4 linked regions of the Homo sapiens genome follow. The protein of the gene in region 1 purifies or fractionates together with the protein of each later gene. This does not show direct contact. Each region holds a gene or a part of one and is shown in the gene's direction. Other genes may lie near its edges.

What was found.
Region 2: the proteins of SLCO1C1 (region 1) and UGGT1 purify together in Homo sapiens (affinity purification with mass spectrometry; one large-scale study listed by BioGRID and IntAct). This does not show direct contact.
Region 3: the proteins of SLCO1C1 (region 1) and CPVL purify together in Homo sapiens (affinity purification with mass spectrometry; one large-scale study listed by BioGRID and IntAct). This does not show direct contact.
Region 4: the proteins of SLCO1C1 (region 1) and PLXDC2 purify together in Homo sapiens (affinity purification with mass spectrometry; one large-scale study listed by BioGRID and IntAct). This does not show direct contact.

The regions. Positions count from the first base shown.
Region 1 is NC_000012.12:20,719,332-20,722,831, forward strand, and holds part of SLCO1C1 (solute carrier organic anion transporter family member 1C1), read left to right. Parts: intron 1-2,472; coding exon 2,473-2,718; intron 2,719-3,500. UniProt on the Homo sapiens protein: Mediates the Na(+)-independent high affinity transport of organic anions such as the thyroid hormones L-thyroxine (T4), L-thyroxine sulfate (T4S), and 3,3',5'-triiodo-L-thyronine (reverse T3, rT3) at the plasma membrane.
Region 2 is NC_000002.12:128,097,700-128,101,199, forward strand, and holds part of UGGT1 (UDP-glucose:glycoprotein glucosyltransferase 1 precursor), read left to right. Parts: intron 1-3,500. UniProt on the Homo sapiens protein: Recognizes glycoproteins with minor folding defects. Reglucosylates single N-glycans near the misfolded part of the protein, thus providing quality control for protein folding in the endoplasmic reticulum.
Region 3 is NC_000007.14:29,066,538-29,070,037, reverse strand, and holds part of CPVL (probable serine carboxypeptidase CPVL isoform b precursor), read left to right. Parts: intron 1-3,500. UniProt on the Homo sapiens protein: May be involved in the digestion of phagocytosed particles in the lysosome, participation in an inflammatory protease cascade, and trimming of peptides for antigen presentation.
Region 4 is NC_000010.11:20,214,932-20,218,431, forward strand, and holds part of PLXDC2 (plexin domain-containing protein 2 isoform 1 precursor), read left to right. Parts: intron 1-2,494; coding exon 2,495-2,645; intron 2,646-3,500. UniProt on the Homo sapiens protein: May play a role in tumor angiogenesis.

The DNA.
Region 1 (3,500 bases):
ATTAGGCCAATTAGTAACCCTACAATGACCTCTAGGTGTTTAAGTGAAAGGAAGAGTTGCACATCTCTCACTTTAAAAGGAAAGCTAGAAAAGATTAGGCTTAATGAGGAAGGCATGTTGAATGCCAAGACAGGCAAAAATCTAGGCCTCTTGCACCAAACAGTTACCCAAGTTGTGAATGTAAATTCTGGCAGGAATTTATAAAAGTGATACTCCAGTAAACACATGAAAGATAAGAAAGTGAAATAGCCTTATTGAGATAAAGTTTTAGTAGTCTGGAGAGAAGATTAAACCAGCCACAACATTTCCTTAAGCCAAAACCTAATTCAGAACAAGGCCTAACCCTCATTAATTCTATAAAGGCTGAAAGAGATGAGGAAGCTGCAGAAGAAAAGTTTGAAGCTGGCGCAAACAGGTTCATGAGGTTTTAGGAAAGAAGCTGTCTCCATAACACAAAAGTGCAAGGTGAAGCAGCCAGTGCCGGTGGAGAAGCTGCAGAAAGTTATCCAGAATATTTAACTAGGATTATTGATGAAAGTGGCTATGCTAAACAACAGATTTTCATCGTAGATGAAATAGTCTTCTATTGGAAGAAGATGCCATCTAGGACCTTCACAGCCATAGAGGAGAAGTCAATCCTGACTTTAAAGCTTCAAAGGACAGGGTGACTCTCTTGTTAGGGGCTAAGGCCACTGGTGACTTTAAGTTGAAGCCAATGCTCATTTAACATTCTGAAATTCCTACACATAGGCTCTTCCTGTGCTCTCTAACTAGAACAATAGAGATATGCTGAATGACAGCACATCTTTTTGCAGCATGGTTTACTAACTATTTGAAGCCCACTGTTAGGATCTGCTGCTCAGGAAAAAAAATATATATATATTCCTTTCAAAATATTACTGCTCATTGGCAATGCACCTAGTCACCCAAGAACTCTGATAGAGATGTACAAAGAGATAAATGTTTTCATGCCTGCTAACATACCGTCCATTTTATACCCCATGGATCAAGGAGTAATTTTGACTTTCAAGTCTTATTATTTAAGAAACGTATTTCACAAAGCTATAGCTATGATCAGTAGTGATTTCTAATGATTTCTAGTGATTTCTAATCTAGACAAAGTAAATTTAAAACCTTCTGGAAAGGATTCCCCATTTTAGATGCCATTAAGAGCATTTGCAATTCATAGGAGGAGGTCAAAATATCCACATTAGCAAGAGTGTGAAAGAAATTGATTTCAGCCCTCCTGGATGACTTTGAGGTGTTGAACACTTTAGTGGAGAAAGTAAGTGCATATGTGGTAGAAACAGCAAGACAACTATAATTAGAAATGAAGCTTGAAGATGCGACTGAATTGCTGCAATCTCATGATAAAGCTTGAACAGGCTGGGCGCGGTGGCTCATGCCTGTAATCCCAGCACTTTGGGAGGCCAAGGCGGGCAGATCACCTGAGGTCAGGAGTTCGAGACTGGCCTGAGCAGCATGGAGAAACCCTGTCTCTACTAAAAATACAAAATTAGCCGGGCGTGGTGGCACATGCCTGTAATCCCAGCTACTAGGGAGGCTAAGGCAGGAGAATCGCTTGAACCCGGGAGGCGGAGGTTGTGGTGGGCCGAGATCGCGCCATTGCACTCCAGCCTGGGCAACAAGAGTGAAACTCCATCTCAAAAAAAAAAAAAAAAAAAAAAGCTTAAACAGATGAAGGGTTGCTTCTTGTGGATGAACAAAGTGAATGGCTTCTTGAGATGGAACCTACTCCTGATGAAGATGCTGTGAACATTACTGAAATGACAACAAAAGATTTAGTAAATTACATAAACTTAGTTGATAAAGCAGTGTCAGGGCTTGAGAAGATTGACTCCAATTTTGAAAGAAGTTTTACTGTGGGTAAAAATGCTGTCAAATAGCATTGCATACTACAGAGAAAACTTTCATGAAGGAAAGAGCTGATCTATGTGGCAAGCTTCATCATTTTCTTATGTTCATACATTGCCACAGTCATTTCAACCTCCAACAACCACTGCCCTGATCAGTCAGCAGCCATCAACATTGAGATGGGATCCTGTACCAGCAAAAAGATCACTATTCACTGAAGGCTCAGATGATTATTAGCATTTTTTAAGCAATAACTTTTTTTTTAAATGAAGGTATGTACATTTTCAGACATAATGCTGTTGCATACTTAATAGACTACAGTATAGTTAAACATAACTTTTGTATGCCCTGGGAAACAAAAAAATTGATGTGATTCTGTATTGTGAAATTCACTTCATTGTGGTGGTCTGGAGCTGAACCTGCAAAATCTCCAAGGTATGCCTGTGGTAAGATCCAGATAAAAAAAAAAATAGCATAGATGAATTATTAGGTATTTTATGATGTTATAGAGTTTTGCAAGAATTTATTTTTAAGTATATTATTTTAACATATTAGCTTTGCTGTTTGTATTACTTAGCCATCCCCTCTGTCTTTCAGATCACATAACCATTACCCCAAAAGATCCCCAGTGGGTAGGAGCCTGGTGGCTTGGCTATCTAATAGCAGGAATCATAAGTCTTCTTGCAGCTGTGCCTTTCTGGTATTTACCAAAGAGTTTACCAAGATCCCAAAGTAGAGAGGATTCTAATTCTTCCTCTGAGAAATCCAAGTTTATTATAGATGATCACACAGACTACCAAACACCCCAGGGAGAAAATGCAAAAATAATGGAAATGGCAAGAGGTAAGTCAAATTCTTGATTTTGAAGTATTTTCATTTTTCTGTTGGGGCTTAAGGAGATTTATAAATTACATCCCTCTCTTCCCTTCGTGTATTAAAAAGTTGAGAAACCATATCAGAAGCAAAAATGGAAATTGATGTCAGCTTTATTACTGAACAACTGATTGCAGTACACGACCAAAGAGCAAAGGCTTGACAGCCATTCCTGCTGATGTCTCCACCCTCTCACACCTCCTCAGTTTAGATCCTACCATTGTCTCTACCCAGGATTGCTGCTTCCTGTAATTCTGTGTATACAGGAAATAAAAGGCTTAATCTTCAAGGTTGGCAGCCTTTCAACAGATAAGATCTATTCATTTGAGAGATGTGTATCAATGCATGTCTCTCACCAATGATCAAAGGGGTGAGTGTTCTGTAGGCAAAAACCCAGTGTTCTAATGAACCCCCTTCATGGAAATGAGCAGCCCCTCATGATATTGGTCCCCCTCTTCTTGTCCCTTCAAGCAATATTTACATTTATAGAAATTCTTCACATGTCTAATTGGTAGGCTACATAATAGGAAAAAGGGAGAACACCAATGCTCATTTCTAACACTAAAATTCATATATTAAATGGAGATAACTCTCATATTTCTTTCTCTTTGACCACAAGCTAAGTTTGAGGAATAGAGACAAGAAAAGTGAAGGTCTTTATGTCCTGCCTGTGGCTCCCAGCTAGATGATGAGGGAGTATTCTCATCCTTTTCGTCTTTTGCCCACATCAGTTAGAGGAATCTGTTCTTGTC
Region 2 (3,500 bases), on another chromosome or scaffold:
GGATGTATTGTACAAAGGCTGTTAGGACATAGCATCATTCAGTAGGACAAGGGCTATGTGGGTTTATAGAGCTATGTAGGAACTTTGGACAAATAACTGTGTTGGATAAGTTAGTATGTTACTTTCCAAAAAGCATAACAAGGAAAGAGAGGGTTATGTTTATTTATTTATTTATTTTTGGAGACAGGGTCTCGCTCTGTTGCCCAGGCTGGAGTGCAGTGGTGAGATCTTGGCTCACTGTGACCTCCGCCTCCTGGGTTCAAGGGATTCTCATGCCTCTGCCTCCTGAGTAGCTGGGATCACGGAAGTGCCCCACCACACCCTGCTAATCTTTGTATTTTTAGTAGAGAAGGGGTTTCGCCATGTTGGCCAGGCTGGTCTCAAACTCCTTAGCCTCATGTGATCTGCCTACCTTGGCCTCCCAAAGTGCTGGGATTACAGATGTGAGCCACTGTGCCTGGCCAGTTGTATTCAAATTTTCTCCTTATTTGAAGGAAGTTTTAAGAGGTGATTGATAAAAGGAAGAGAAGAGGGCTTAGCAACGTGGGGGAAAGAGGACATTTTTCCCTTAAGAACGTGGAAGAAGGCTGGGCACGGTGGCTCACGCCTATAATCCCAACACTTTGGGTGGACAAGGTGGGTGGATCACCTGAGGTCAGGAGTTCGAGACCAGCCTGGCAACAATTAGCTGAGCGTGCTGGCATGTGCCTGAGCATCAGATTAGGAGATTATGCCCATGCAGCTCAATCTTTCTTTTTAAATGATAAAACGGTGGCTAGGTACGGTGGCTCATGCCTGTAAATCCCAGCTCTTTGGGAGGCTGAGGTGGGTGGATTGCTTGAGTCCAGGAATTTGAGACCAGCCTGGGCAACATGGGGAAACCCCGTCTCTCCAGAAAAAAATAGCTGAGTGTGGTGGTTCGTGCCTATAGTCCCAGCTACTTGGGAGGCTGACCGGGAGGATCACTTGAGCCCAGGAGGCGGAGGTTGCAGTGAGCCCAGATCACGCCATTGCAGTCCAGCCTGGGCAGCAGAGCAAGACTCCGTCTCAAAAAAAAAAAAAAAGGGAAAGAAGTTATCTTACGATTAAAATGGGTAGAATTTTTCATAAAACAATAGTTGTCTTAAAATTAGTGAAACATAGTAATTTCATGAGAAATTTTGTATTCCAAGTGTGCTTTTTAGCTAGTGTTTGTAAATAAATATAATGAGATACCTGTCTGTATAGGTAGGGCTTAAATGCTTATGGATGGAAGGTTATTTGATTGTATCTCAAGTGATGTAGAGGTGGAACTAGCAGAGACTTTCCAAAGGATAAATGTGGGTAGATTGAGCAGCAAGCACTTGGTAAGTCTTAGTGTTTGAACGTGCTAGAAATTTGGACTGTCACATCACTCCAATCAGCCTTGTGGTCTGTCTTCTTCATCTTCAATTTATATATATATATTTTTTTGAGAGTTTTTGAGACAAGGCCTGTCTCTGTTGTTCAGGCTAGAGTGTAGTGGTGTGATCTCAGCTCCCTGTAACCTCTGCCTCCTGGACTCAAGCCATCCTCCCACCTAGGCCTCCCTAGTAGCTGGGACTACAGGTGTGAGCCACTACCCCTGGCTTATTTTTGTATGTTTTATAGAGATGGGCTTTCACCATCTTGGCCAGGCTGGTCTGGAACTCCTGAGCTCAAGTGATCTACCTGCCTTGGCCTCCCAAAGTGGTGGAATTACAGGTGTGAGCCACCATGCCTGGCCTCTAGAATTTTGTATTCTAACATTTTCCCCTTAATTCCTAGAAAAATGTGGATGAAGAATTTTGCCATGTTGATTGTGTGAACGAATGGTTGCACCTCTTAAGGAAAAAGCCTCATTTGATACTGCTAAAAGGACCAGTGGGAGGGGGCATGTGGCAGCCGGTCTTGGCTAGCTCAGGAGCCTAGCAGACTTTCTGCTAAATAGACTTCCTTCCATCGCCTCTCTCTGCCTTTCTTTCTCAGCATAGAAGTGGCAAAACAAAGACAAAACCATTGTATGTATTTCATGGTGATAACTAACTTGATAAATGGGTCAAGCTTGTCAAATGTCAGAACTTTATTTGATACAGCATAGTTGTAAAAGTGAAGTGGCTCTTTTTTAAGAGTTCTTATTATGGGGGAAAAAAGCCCAACAAAGCAAATAACAAACAAAAAAGCAGTGACTGAAGATATTTTGAGACTGCCTGAGCTGGACTGCCTGAGCTGGACTCTAAAAACTAAAGTTTTTCTTTTCCTTTTTGCTAATCTTATTTTGGATGATTTGTTTGGTATAAAATCTGTCATTGAGATTTACAACCCCCCCCCCCACCCTACTTATTTTTTTTGAGACAGAGTTTCATTTTGTCACCCAGACTGGAGTTCAGTGGCGCCATCTTGGCTCACTGCAACCTCTGCCTCCCAGGTTCAAGCCCATTCTCATTCTCCTGCCTTAGCCTCCCAAGTAGCTGGGATTACCGGCGTGTGCCAGCATGCCTGGCTAATTTTTATATTTTCAGTAGAGATGGGGTTTTACCATGTTGGCCGCCAGGCTGGTCTGAACTCCTGACCTCAGGTGATCTGCCCTCCTTGGCCTCCCAAAGTGCTGGGATTACAGGCGTGAGCCACCGGGCCTGGCCAAGATTTACTATCACTTTCTGAATCATTTTGTACAATTAACTGTAACAGGTGTTTTTGTGATATTCTGTTTAACATTCTTTTTTTGAGATGGAGTTTCGCTCTTGTTGCCCAGGCTGGAGTGCAATGGCGTGATCTCGGCTCACCGCAACCTCTGCCTCCCAGGTTCAAGCGATTCTCTTGCCTCAGCCTCCTGAGTAGCTGGGATTACAGGCATGCACCACCAAGTCCGGCTAATTTTGTATTTTTTTTTTTTTTTTTTTTTAGTAGCGATGGAGTTTCTCTATGTTGGTCAGGCTGGTCTGGAACTCCCCACCTCAGGTGATCCACCCATCTCGGCCTCCCAAAGTGCTGGGATTACAGGTGTGAGCCACCGCGCCAGGCCTCTGTTTAACATTCTTACCCTGAATTACATTTTGTTACTTTCACTTTTATTTACACTAATTTCTTGATAGTTGTACATTCTTGATCATTGTCCTAGAAGATTCTTACAGCATAAAACTATGGACTTTTGAGAAAGAATGCTAAAATTGCCAGCCCTAATTGCTCAATATTTTCAGTTTCTTTGATCACTGTGAAGTGGACAGGGTATACTGTTTTCTTCACCAACTTCCTTATCACAGACATCTCCCCCTTTCATGATATCCCTGGTCATTTGCCATTTTGTTTTATTTTTATTAATTTTTTTCCTTGGCATGTGAAGTAAGAGCTACATTTGCCCTTTTGGTTTACTATTTTTAGGCCCCTTCTCCTGTGGCTATTTGTATACAGTTTCCCAAGGTAATACGACATGTAGGCAACTCATAGAAATGAGCTATGCTTATTAGAATCCACTTAGTATTCACCTCCAGAGCTAGCAGAGC
Region 3 (3,500 bases), on another chromosome or scaffold:
GGTTGAAATGTGTTTCAGTGACTGCAAAGGAAGACTCCAACAAATCCTGAAACCCAGGGGAATATAAATGTCAGAATCTCAAGCCTAAAATGATAAAGCCTGTTTGACGCTCTGATCCTTTAAAATGATTTAATTAATCAAAGAGTAGTAACTCAGAGCTGGAGAGTACTCTGGAGATAGGTCATCTACTGTCCCTATGCATTTACATGCACACACACACACACACACACACACACACACACACACACACACACACACACACACACATTTACTGGTGAGTGGAGAGGATGCCGAGCCCCAGGGGATAGCAATGAATTGCCGAAGGATACACAAATAGATTGTGGCAGGCTGAGGACTGGAATTGCTTCCCCCATTTCCACCACAGTATTTATCCTATGGTAATTTTCAGGCATTCTGTAAAAATCCTGGATCGTCTTAGATATTCTGCAAGATGTGAAATGACTGATCCTCTGTCCAGTATTACCTCCCTTTCCATGATGATTTTCTGAATCACAAAGTTCTTAGTTTCACAGGTCTTGACCACCCATGTTATTTTTTGACAACAACTGACTTTTTCTTTTTTTTTTTTTTTTTTTTGAGACGGAGTCTCGCTCTCTTGCCCAGGCTGGAGTGCAGTGGCAAGATCTCAGCTCACTGCAACCTCCACCTCCCAGGTTCAAGCCATTCTCCTGCCTCAGCCTCCCGAGTAGCTGGGATTACAGGCACTCGCCACCACGAATGGCTAATTTTTCTTATTTTTAGTAGAGACGGGTTTTCACCGTGTTGGCTGGGCTGGTCTCAAACTCCGGACCTCAAGTGATCCGCCCGCCTCGGCCTTCCAAAGTGCTGGGATTACAGCTGTGAGCCACCATGCCTGGCCAACAAATGACTTTTAACTCTTTCTAAAAGCAAAGTTATTCTTCAAGGTTGACTTTATATTCCCACTGGTGTTGAAGATAATTTCTAACAATGAGTTCCAAAAATGATGTGTGCATTCAGAATGACCCTGGCCTATGGTGCCCCATCTGGGTGAACAAATTAGAAAAAGACACCTCGGCCGGGCGCAGTGGCTCACGCCTGTAATCCCAGCACTTTGGGAGGCCGAGGCGGGCGGATCACGAGGTCAGGAGATCGAGACCACGGTGAAACCCCGTCTCTACTAAAAATACAAAAAAGTTAGCCGGGCGTAGTGGCGGGCGCCTGTAGTCCCAGCTACTCGGGAGGCTGAGGCAGGAGAATGGCGTGAACCCAGGAGGCGGAGCTTGCAGTGAGCCAAGATCGCGCCACTGCACTCCAGCCTGGGTGACAGAGCGAGACTCCATCTCAAAAAAAAAAAAAACAAAGAAAAAAAAAAAGAAAAAGACACCTCCTCTGTGGTGATGCAGTCCTGTGGGTTCAGGACGGGGCAGGCAGATGCCTCCATTGTGTGAGGATAAGAGGTGGCCACTTCTCCAGATGCAGCCCTGAGCCAGGCTCTCCAGCTCAGCGAGCAGAACTTTGGCTGGTTCCCTGTCCCTTTGCACCCCTTAGCCACAGGCATCGCATGGAGCTGCACAACCAGATGTGGGGCCCTGAGCAATGGTAGCATTGGTAGAGAATACTTACTACCACCTCCACCCACACCGCCTTCTATGGTGATAACCCTTTTCATTCTTGGCCTCTAGCCCCATGGCAATAGGAACTTGAATAAGTTCTTTCATGTTTGAAAAAGAATATGAATACAGGCCGGGGGCGGTGGCTTACACCTGTAATCCCAGCACTTTAGGAGGCCGAGGTGGGCAGATCACAAGGTCAGGAGTTCGAGACCAGCCTGATCAACATGGTGAAACCCCGTCTCTATTAAAAATACACACACACAAAAAAAAATTAGCTGGGCGTGGTGGCAGGCGCCTTTAATCTCAGGTACTCGGGAGGCTGAGGCAGGAGAATTGCTTGAATCCGGGAGGCAGAAGTTGCAGTGAGCTGAGATCTCACCACTGCACTCCAGCCTGAGTGACAGTGCGAGACTCCATCTCAAAAAAAAAAAAAAAGAATATGAATATAATAATTAGTCTATTTTCTCAAGCATTGAAGCATGGCCAGAAGGAATTGGCAAGTAGGAAGCATTGCAGGCTGACTGCTGGGAGCCAGTGTGTGCGTGGTTGAGTGTGCAGGCTCAGGAGTCGTGGCCTAATCATCTCATCTCTGACATTATTAGTGAGGTGTCCTCGGCAAGTTGCTTAAACTCATGTGTCTCAGTTTTCTCACCCATAAAATTAGAATAATAATACCTTATCTGATAAGAGACCTAAATTTGTACTTGATAGATTGTTTTTAACATGTGCTGACTTCATTTCTTTGAATTCTTTTGTAAGAACTCCTTACAACTTAATATCATCATCAACAACCCCCCTCCATGTCTTCAACCTCTTCTGTGACTATTTTCTTCTCTTCATCTTCTTGCTTTGCCAGAAACCTGGCTCTCCCCTGATGCTGCAGTCCCTGTGGTCCTCTTGAGTGGGGGCTGTTCTCTCTCTTAGCTTGTCTGTATCACTTGGTTCATAGGTGGAGTAGGTGTCTTCCTTGCTCATCATGTGACTTTCAGATCATGTTCCCTGCCTCCTCCTAAAGCATTGAGCTTTGACTCTCCTGTCCTCAGACAGGGCCTCTGACCACTTCCAACTGTGTCTGCCTACCAACCCCTGGTTACTCCCTCTCATTTGAATAGCTGAGCTCCTTCCTCCCTGTCACTCTCTGCAGCATTATTCTTGTCATAATTCCTGGTAACTGCAGGATCCACATTGACGATCCTTTTGGGACCTGGTCCTTGGTGCCTCAGCCTCCTCTTTTTCAATGATCTTGTTCTCCTCCTCATCTTAGCTGCTGATTCTCATACCCTAAAATGCTGGCAGCTGATCCACAATCACACATTCAAACATCTTTCTCCAACTACCACCTCCTGTCCGAATCTCTTCTGCTAATGTACTGATCTTACAGCCCTGCAACCTCACTACCTTTCAATCCATTGATCCTCCTGCCTCTCCACTATCTCTAACCCCCTCAAGTCTCCATTTCTCTAATTACCTGTCTTCAACCCAGGGTCAGTCATTCCATACATTTCCAAGCCCAAAGCTCTTTTGCATTTCTTCCAACTCCTTTGGCTGAACCACAGCCCTGGCTCAATCTGCCTCTCTGTCAGGCTGTGCTTGTCTCCACACAGCTGACAATGGCTGGAGGAAAGCATGCAACCATGCTGACTGCTCTCCCGCTCAGCTGGTGACTGGGTTTTTTAATGTCAGCCCAAAGATAACTTCCACCAGCTCCAGGAACCTGCATCTGCACCATATCCTGCGTCTTCTCTCCATGTCATCTGGTGAGCAGTTCATGATCCATGTTAAGGCACCCTTCCCACAAGGCTTACTCCCATAGGCAAGGCCTTTGAGCTTACTGTGTCCTCTGCCTGGAACCTTCCTTCCCCTAGATGTCTGCATGGCTCTATTCCTCTCATCCAATATGTCTTT
Region 4 (3,500 bases), on another chromosome or scaffold:
CTGGTCAATAGATGACTTTTTGGGCCTGAAATCCAAAAGAGGAATGTGGACTGGAAATATAGATTTATGAATAATCAACATAAAGATGTTCATTGCAGTCATGGGTGTAGAAGAGATTGCAAAAGATAATGCATAGAATGAAGTGACAGAGCAAGAATGATCCATAAGAACCACCCCAACACTTAAGGAATTGACATAAATAAAAGGAAATTGAGATGGAGTTGTGAGGGAGGTGTCAGAACATTGAGGAGAGGGTGTGTCACAGAAACCAAGACAGGGGAGTGGACATCTGCACCATAGGCTGATGAGGTGTCAGTAGGACACCATGGAAGATGTTGGATATTTAGCTAAGGAGATATTTAGAAACATTGGTACGAGAAATTTCAACTCAGTTGGATTAGGTAAGAGCAAGATTGTCATAAAAGGGAAAGCTGGGAGTCTGAGAAGACCAAGGCAGACTGATCTCTCTGGAAATATGACTGCGTATGAATGGAGGGAAAGCAGTATAATGTCAGGATGCATTGGGGAGAAGAGGGAGGCAGTCCCTCTTCTGGGACTGCCTCCCTTTGCAAACTGGAATTTGGGTTTGCAAAATAAGATTAGGCATGCTTGTGTACCTTTAAGTGTTGTTGATAAGAAGCCAGCAGAGAATTAGGGGTGGCAAATATTGTAGAGAAAGGACTATGATCACCTAAGCAAATTCACAATACCTGTGAAGGTGGGCTGAGTTGAGCTAGGACATAGGTAGAAATAGGTTGAAAGGATGGCTATAAGGAAAGGTCCCCATCCATTATCACAGAAGGAAAGAATAGGTCAGCCCAGAGTCAAGTAAGTATGCTGATTCACTAAGAAATTTAAAGAAATCTTGCTGATCATGCCTATTTATCAAGGAAATGGAAGGTGAACCCAAGGAGTAAAACCGGGAGAATCATGATGGGATTGCAGTTTTAGGTAAAGTGGAGAGAGCTTGAAATTCATACTGAGCATAATGGGAGAGGTGATTAGCAAGACACAGCAATGCTGCCAAGTGGTATGCACGGCCCTGCTAAGGATGCAGGAGATGTTTGTGGAGCCCCCATGGCGGGTCTGTGTGATTATTCTCCAGCTGTGCCTGGCTTTGGAGCAGGCAGGGAAAAGGCAGATCTTTTCTTTAAAGGTGTTGTAGAAAAAAAAACTAAAAAAAAAAAAAAATAAAAAAATAGAGCAAGATGCTTGAAGCTACTGAAATGAGTGGTTGAAGTAATGGGGGAAAAAGAAACTTAAAAACAAAATCATTTTCTTAGGCTTTCTAAGTAGTCAAAGAATAAGAAGAATTGGAGTTCGCAGGTACAGGGATAGATGGAAAAAGGATAACTGAGCTTATGATTTCAGATCTAAAACATTTTCCACTACAGATATAGTCCAGGGTGTGGGGATGACAACTAAAGTGGTATCTGAAAGGAAATAATTAGATTAATGGGGCTCAGAGGTGCAGGAACTGGAATTTGGGGAATTAAATGAGACCCTAGTATGTTTAGACTTGAAGTGGAGAATAAACCTGTTTCATATCCTATTAATGAAAAGGAGGCTGTCTCAGGAAGTCTGCATTAACAAGGGGAAAGGCACCTAGCGCTCCACTAATGATGAGAGAAGTTTAAGAATGATATTTATTTAACAATAATTTTAAAATGTGGGATGAGAACCACTCATGTCCAGAATAGTTATTTTCTACTCAAGGCCCACCTGAGAGAGGGAGTCCACTGCGGCACAAAAGGTGGATAGAAACACCAACTTCTAAGCTATAAAAGTTTGGATGTTGGAGGTTGTTACCAGTGAAGGTTGTAGGATTTGTTTTCACAAATTAAAAATAAAAAATTCACTATGTCTCATTTCCTGATGTTTTCAATATAGCTCTGCTAAGGAGGAAAATAGGCTGAGTGATTACAAGAGTTCTGTTCAATCCTTTGCTTATGTGGTTTTGAATATTTCATAAAGGAAAACAAAATTTTAGACATTCATTCAACTTGTGACAGATGATTTTTGAAACAATGAAGTAGTATGGGGAAGTTAGCAAATATTTCGGATTTAGCATTGTCAGTTTGATACGAAAGGAATGCACTTTTTCTCCACAAACCTGAGTATGTTTTAAACCTTATCTTTATGCACCTGTTTTTCTTCTAGTATAAATTTTCCCTTTTGACAGTGTGTCTTTTATAAATATACCAATGTAAAATTTAGGGCAAGGTAAACAGTAATATGAAAGCTTAACAGCAGTAAATGATGAAACCTAAATATCTAAAAAGGGAAATGCCTTGTTCCATCCATCTTTTTCTCTTTCCTATTTTATAAACTTCATAAATTAGCAAAATCATTAATATAGTCTTGTACAAAAGTAATTTATTCCTTGTCTTGATATGAGAGGCTTTTGTGCTTTACAGCCCAGCTTCTTTGATGTAAGTTCTAAAAATAGATTTGTGATCACTCCATTTGTTTTCCTTTTCTTTTCTCTTACTAGTCAAAAGAGAAGATGTGTGAGAATACAGAACCAGTGGAAACTTCTTCTCGAACCACCACAACCGTAGGAGCGACAACCACCCAGTTCAGGGTCCTAACTACCACCAGAAGAGCAGTGACTTCTCAGTTTCCCACCAGCCTCCCTACAGAAGGTACCCAAGAGATAGTTTGCTTTTTTTTTTTTTTTTTTTTTTTTTTTTCCCTGAAGGAAGGAAAAATCACTGTGTTGACATGTACTGGAATAGCTCCTACTCTCTAGGTCTCTCTAAAGTTATTCTTTGGCAAACTGGATTTCTAAGGGATTTCCAAAGGGGAAAAAGACAAAATTATTATGAACTAAAAGTAAATGCTGGGATTCTTTTAATGCACTGTGCCTTTTTTTAAGACATAGCTTTTACCATTGATTCTGGCTTCTTGTCCTCTCCTTCCTAGAAAAGAAATACAGATTTCTTCCTGTGTGGCTAAATTTTGTACTAAGCAAATCCAACTTCACAATCACAGGTTAGAAAGGCAAAATGCATATAAAATGTCCGTTGATTCTGGATTCTGAACAATAAATAATTCTATTAATATATAATTCTAATGTTTTCCAGAATGCAGTCAATAAAATATATTGGTCTATAACCTATACAGAAACACTGTATGTGTCATAGAAATTGTCCTTGAAAACAACTATTTCCTCTTCTAAGGTAGGCAGAAATACTAGAGAGTGTTAATGCTTGGGCACAGCTCAGGAGGAAGAAAGTGTATTACCCAACATACGATAATTTTCTATTCTGAATGATACCACCAGGAGGGAGAGGGCAGAAACATAAGACTGGCCACGAATCAGGTTTGAGGGGGATAAATGGGTCTTACTTGTTTATTGTTATAAGCCTCACTTTCTTTGGCTTGAATAAAAAATTAAATATGGAACTTTTAATTGGAATTTAATTTGATATTATAAGGTGAACTGGAATAAAGTGGGGTGGAAAGCAGCTGCTAAGTGCATTTTACTGCTTTTAAAA